Linked DNA regions of Homo sapiens: region 2 is linked to region 1. Evidence: fine-mapped expression QTL. A gene starts in region 1. The other region holds a variant in brackets. All regions are shown on one strand. Distances are from middle to middle. Region 1 holds the start of NLRP9 (NLR family pyrin domain containing 9). Region 2 overlaps EPN1 (epsin 1).

The links. PIP is the estimated chance that this variant, and not a neighbour inherited with it, causes the effect.
Region 2: its variant is fine-mapped to the expression of NLRP9 in gastroesophageal junction (GTEx, PIP above 0.99). The same link has a PIP of 0.9 or more in sigmoid colon.

What each region holds. Positions count from the first base shown.
Region 1 is chr19:55,736,738-55,739,657 of GRCh38, forward strand. NLRP9 (NLR family pyrin domain containing 9) reads right to left here and starts at 1,665. Exons shown (of 9, transcript NM_176820.4): 1 at 1,358-1,665. The coding sequence starts at 1,637. It also overlaps the pseudogene RN7SKP109.
Region 2 is chr19:55,707,299-55,710,218 of GRCh38, forward strand. It overlaps EPN1 (epsin 1), which reads left to right. Exons shown (of 11, transcript NM_001130072.2): 11 at 1-2,235. It overlaps NLRP9 (NLR family pyrin domain containing 9), which reads right to left. Exons shown (of 9, transcript NM_176820.4): 9 at 1,140-1,746. The coding sequence ends at 1,614. It also overlaps the pseudogene VN1R106P. Among named protein-coding and RNA genes, the nearest start is that of NLRP9, 30 kb to the right of the region's middle. The variant C/G (reference allele first, on the strand shown) is at 1,581.

The sequences.
Region 1 (2,920 bases):
GAAGGAGAATCGCTTGAACCTGGGAGGCAGAAGTTGCAGTGAACCGAGATCATGTCACTGCCCTCCAACCTGGGCAACAGAGCAAGACTCCGTCTCAAAAAAATAAAACAAAAACAAAAAAAAAAACAAAAAACTAACACAGCAAGCAACTCCAAACCAAATAAAATACCCTCAAGCATGTGGGGATACGAAATAAGGTCTCAAATTAGAATTACCAACACAAAGAAGAAACATGAACAAAACAGAAGTAAACGTAACAGAAGTTGATGGAACTCAAAAGTAAAGGGAGAAGATAACAATCATCAGAAACAAATGCTAATTACTAGATACCTAATAGGGAATATATTTAGTTTTTCCTAAGTATCCCCCGAGAGGAGGGTGTAGACCCCATCAATGAGTCCAGCAGAACTGGTTCGGAGTCAGATCTGTCACTTTTGGAAAAGTCATGTAACACATGGGAACACTGTTTTGTCCAGTTTTCTCACTTGTAAACCTTTCCTGGGTTGTGATAAGAATGAAAAGACATTATGCAGAAAGAATGCTTCCAGGACGTGAGGACAACCTGGCTGTGATGTCTGTCACCCCATTGGTCGCCCCAGGGCTAATTCGGCTGATGTGGCCAGCTGGGTGGGTGTCCACTTCCTCCCTCACTGCTCCATATGCGTCCGTCCTGAAAGTCTCCCCTGGGTCAAAGACGATGACAACCTTTGCCCATAGAGGAAGGTCCTTCCATCGCGGGCAGAAGAGAAGCTGTGCTCCCCTACTAGAACCTCCAAACAAGCTCGCAAGAATGCTTCCTGTAGTACCCGGGACATACGCTGTCTGATTGTCTTAAGATTCTACCTACTCCTTGGTACATGTCTGGTCAAAAAGGACAGGCAGTTAGGCATGGTGGCTCACTCCTGTAATCACAGCACTTTGGGATGCCTAGGCAGGTGGATCACTTGAGCCTGGGAGTTCAAGACCAGCCTGAGCAACATGGCAAGACCCTTTCTCTAAAAAAAAAAAAAAAAAAAAAAAAAAGATAGGCAACTACCATACTAGAATTCCATCTCAGTAGACCTGGCAATGCAGACACTAACTGGCCACTCATCTCCTATAACAACGACTCCACTTGGGGTGGAAAAATGGGAAGACACTCCATAGGTGAACAGTTGGTATCAGGACGCCATCTGTCCCCAGTTCATCGCTGGCCCACATATGAACAGCCCTGGCCTGCAACTCTTCCTACCTTCAACTCTCACCTTGACCCACACACATTCTCATCTGATGGAGGGGGTGGCCACTCATTTAACAATGCTATCACCTTGTTCCCAGGCTTCCCCCATGGGTCCTCGCCCCATCATCCAGCACTTACTTCTCATCTCTTCCTGAGCCTTTGTCCAGAGATCTTTCCTATTGATCTGTAGAAACAGGTTCAGTGTTACCTCCCATGCCTGCTTTCCTGGGTAATGTTTGTCCAGCAGCTTTGCTACATCTTCTTTGGAGGCCTTCTTCAGCTCAGCCCAGGGGATTGGCTTGAGTTCAAATTTCTCCAAAGGTTGTTTGAGGAGCTCCTTAAATTTCCAAAACTCTTCCTTTCTGAGCTCCTTCAGATACCACAACAAGCCAAAATCCGAAAAAAAAGATTCTGCCATATCGCCCCAGGATTGTGAACTGAGGTGTCTCCAGAGGGAAAAGAAAGATCCTCAAAAATAAAGAATAAATGATACCTGGAGAAGAATGACATGATTACAGAGTTAAGCTTCAGCAGCTGAAAGCAGCTCAAAATTATTGATATCATCATGCGTAGCTTGCACCAAACATCATCTAGGGAAGAAGCTTCATCTTTTTCCAAACAAATGCATGTGAATGGTAGAGTTGACTGCCACTTATGTGTCTTGTTTTTGTCTGACATAAATGATGCTTCCAGGAACAAGTGTTTTTGTGTAGTTTGGTGTATATAAGCACACATTTCTCTAGATTTATAAATTATAGGTCAAACAGCAAACACAGGTCACCATGTTTGCTACATAACACTCAACGGTTTTCCCTTGTGTATATAATTACTGACATTCCTACCAGCATTCTATGAGTTTGTTTGCTCTGTAGACCTTCCCATCCTTAGTATAGTCTAATCCAATTTTGATAATGAAAAAATGAACGGATATTAAAATTACAGATGATCACATTCAGGAAGATGAAAATAAAGGAAGAGGACATAAAAGCAAATTTAAATTTTTTTTTATCGTTTAGTGGTATATGCCTTCTTTTTTTTTTTTTTTTTTGAGACAGAGTCTCGCTCTGATGCCCAGGCTGGAGTGCAGTAGCGCAATCTCGGCTCACTGCAAGCTCTGCCTCCCGGGTTCACGTCATTCTCCTGCCTCAGCCTCCTGAGTAGCTGGGACTACAGGTGCCTGCCACCACACCCGGCTAATTTTTTTGTATTTTTAGTAGAGATGGGGTTTTACTGTGTTCGCCAGGATGGTCTCGATCTCCTGACCTCGTGATCCACCCGCCTCGGCCTCCCAAAGTGCTGGGATTACAGGCATGAGCCACCGTGCCCGGCCGGTATATGCCTTCTTATTACAGTATATAAGGAAAAAGTTAGATTTACTATAGGTTAGCATCTGCAGACAACTCAGACAGAAACAGAGCAGTGAACGTTCCCAGTATTATAAACCCTTCAGATAATCATTGCAATTCAACAAAAGACAGGAAATGAAGTAGAAATATATGGTAGACAAAATAAGACAGGTGGCAAAAATAATACCAAATATATATAGATATGTATTTTGAGATAGAGTTTCACTCTTGTTGCCCAGACTAGAATGCAATGGTATGACCTCAGCTCACTGCAACCTCTGCCTCCCAGGTTCAAATGATTCTCCTGCCTCGTCCTCCCAAGTAGCTGGGATTACAGGCACCTGCCACCATGCCC
Region 2 (2,920 bases), 29 kb before region 1:
ACCACTGCCCTCCAGACTGAGCCAAAAAGCAGACCCTGACTCTAAAACAAAAGAAAGAACAAATAACAAATGAAAATAAATACCCAAAAACCAGTCAAATGTGAAACTGGTGTCAGGGGTATGTTCTCCATGTTGAGCCCCTTCTGTGGAATATGACAGTGTCTCTATTTCGGGTAAAGGAAAGACCAAAATAACTTTCCAAGATGAAAAGCTAAGAGTGCTGATCTCATCACAGACATAGCCAGCTCTTCAGTTCAGACCACCTGGAAACCCTCCCCATGTCTTTTCAGAACAATGTCCTAAGAACCATAGGGGAAGTGGCCATAAAAACCATCTTTCCTTTGCAGACTGGGGTGGGGACTCTGGCCAATGCCATTCTGTTCTTCCATAATATCTTTCCCATCTTGACTGAGCATCAAATGAGGCCCACACACAAGATTCTCACCCACATGGCCGTGGCAAACTCCTTGGTTCTTCTTTCCACTGGAATCCCCCACACAATGGTGTCTTTTGTCCTATGGAAACCCTTGTCCAGTCTTGAGTGTAAACTCGTGTTTACAGGTCTTAAAGTCCTGACCTGGTGATCCGCCCGCGTGGACCTCCCAAAGTGCTGGAATTACAGGCGTGAGCCACCACTCCTGGCCTATGCCAGCATTCTTTAAAGTTGTGGGAAAAGGCCAAAAGCAAATAGAAAATTGGGCAAAAAAGTTCATAATTGCTTAAACATATGGAAAACCTGGAAGTAAAATTAAGCAAGTAAGTGCGAGCACTCTACATTGAAGATTATAGAAAATTCAGCCTCCCAAATATCCAAAGAATCCAGGAGTGTGCCAAGAGATCCAAGAGTAGGTCCACAATTTCTCATTCTCAGGAGAATCTGAGATTATATTTCAATCTAATGATAACTGATTATATAATCCAATTTCTGCATCATCTTGCTTTTATGTTTTGTAATAAAAATTTTAGACCAGGCCAATAAGGCATCAGCAATTTACCGTAGGGAACTAGGGAATGTTTAATTATGACAATGAAGTGTTTAATATTGTGTTTTGAAATATAAACAGTGTAGATATATTTGAATAATACTGAATTTTTAGAAAAATCTATTGGGGTGTCATATATAAAAGGATAAGTAGAGATTTGGAAATGCTTTTTTATTGGACAAGAAAATTGATCAAATCGAAATCTGGACAAACTAGAAAGTCTGGATGCTAGCAATACAATCTATAGACACATTCTAGCATCACTTCTGTGTCAGAAGTATCCGGATTGTGGTGCCTACAAATGCATGCTCCTACACACCAAGACATCCATTAAGAAAATAAAGCCATGCTTTCCAGAGCGTTTAGCACTTGTTTAACGTACTTGTGCTTCTAAATATCACAAGGCAGGATGGGATTTCTAAAGACAAGGGGATATAGGACCGAGGCAAAGACAATCAGCATGTACACTGAATCACACTCCATAATCATATTGCTAGAACACTTAGGGAGTACCTCTGAAATCACAGCCCTGCTGCCATGATGTGCAATTACAGGATAGAGGTGCCAGGTGAAGGTCCCACTGTGGCCAAGGAAAGC[C/G]TTTGTGAGACGACTACTTCAGGGTGTTCCCCATCAGAGGAGCACACCCCTGATCTTGTATTCCTCGTCAATCCAAGGTCCATGTGAAATGGTCAGATGGGGAATTTTTTCTTCCACAGACATCAGGATCTTCTGAGTTTCTTCATCAAAGCCAGATTTGTGCAGCCTGGGAAAATAGAAATAAAGTTTTTTTTTTTGTTTTTCATTTTTACACAGTATTGCCTCTCTACATTCTGATGTCTACCTCTCCTCTCCTCTTTATTCTTTCCTAGAAATCACTGGGAGAATTGTACTGAATTTGAAAAACAAGCATGAATCTTTCCTATAGGATAGGAAGCCTCTGATTTATACCATAAAGTGAAATTTCATATACAGGATGTATCAATTAAGATTTAATTCAAAAAAGATGAATTTAAGTTAAAAAGAAAAACACAGGATAACTTCCATTCATCTGATGTTCATATGCCCTGGCACATCTATTGCTTCTTATAATGTGCTTGCTTAAAAAAAAAAAACATGAGCTTTTCTCAGAGACACTAATATAATGAATTCATGTACCCATCACCAACTTCTACAATTACCAATATTCAGCCTCTTCCATTTACAACCTGCCCATTTTCTAAGAAATAATTAAAGCACATGCTACACCCATAAATATGTCAAACGTTCTTGTCTGTTTTCGCTATTTTCAGTTCCTTTCGTGTCATTGTCCCCTGAACCCACCTCAACAAAGCTGGTTTTTGTAGTCACCAATAACATCAATTTGTTAAATACATTCTATCCTACTTACCCAGTTAGCATTGAATACAGTTAATTACACTTTCTTGTTTATTTTTTCCCTTAGCTTACTGGACACGACTTCCTCCTGGCTTCTACTCCCTCAACAGCTATCGTTCTTGCTTTATACGTTGAATCTCTGTCTCTTTATAACTTCTAAATGTTCTCAGCATCAGGAAAATATAAAAAATAAGTTCACAAATAATTGGTAAGACTGGAACATAGGCCTTCCTGAAAGAATATAACTAACATTTGCAATTCTCTTCTCCCCTCTCCCGTGTCCTTCCTTCTTGCCAGGTGTTCATAGTTATATGCCTTTTTATCTCCAATTATAAAAAGAAGTTGAGGAGGATTAGCAGGTCACAAAATTTCGTAGACATTTAGACACAGGAGAAGTAGGAGTTTATCTTAAATCTTCAGAGGTAGGGAAGATGGCTAAGTTTCCTTTCAGCTACAGCGACACTATGAGAAAGTTACCCAGAAATAACTGCTCTGAATGCTTGCTACTGTGGAGATGACATGTTTTGGGTGTGGGGATGGTGGTTGAAGAGAAGGGAGACATT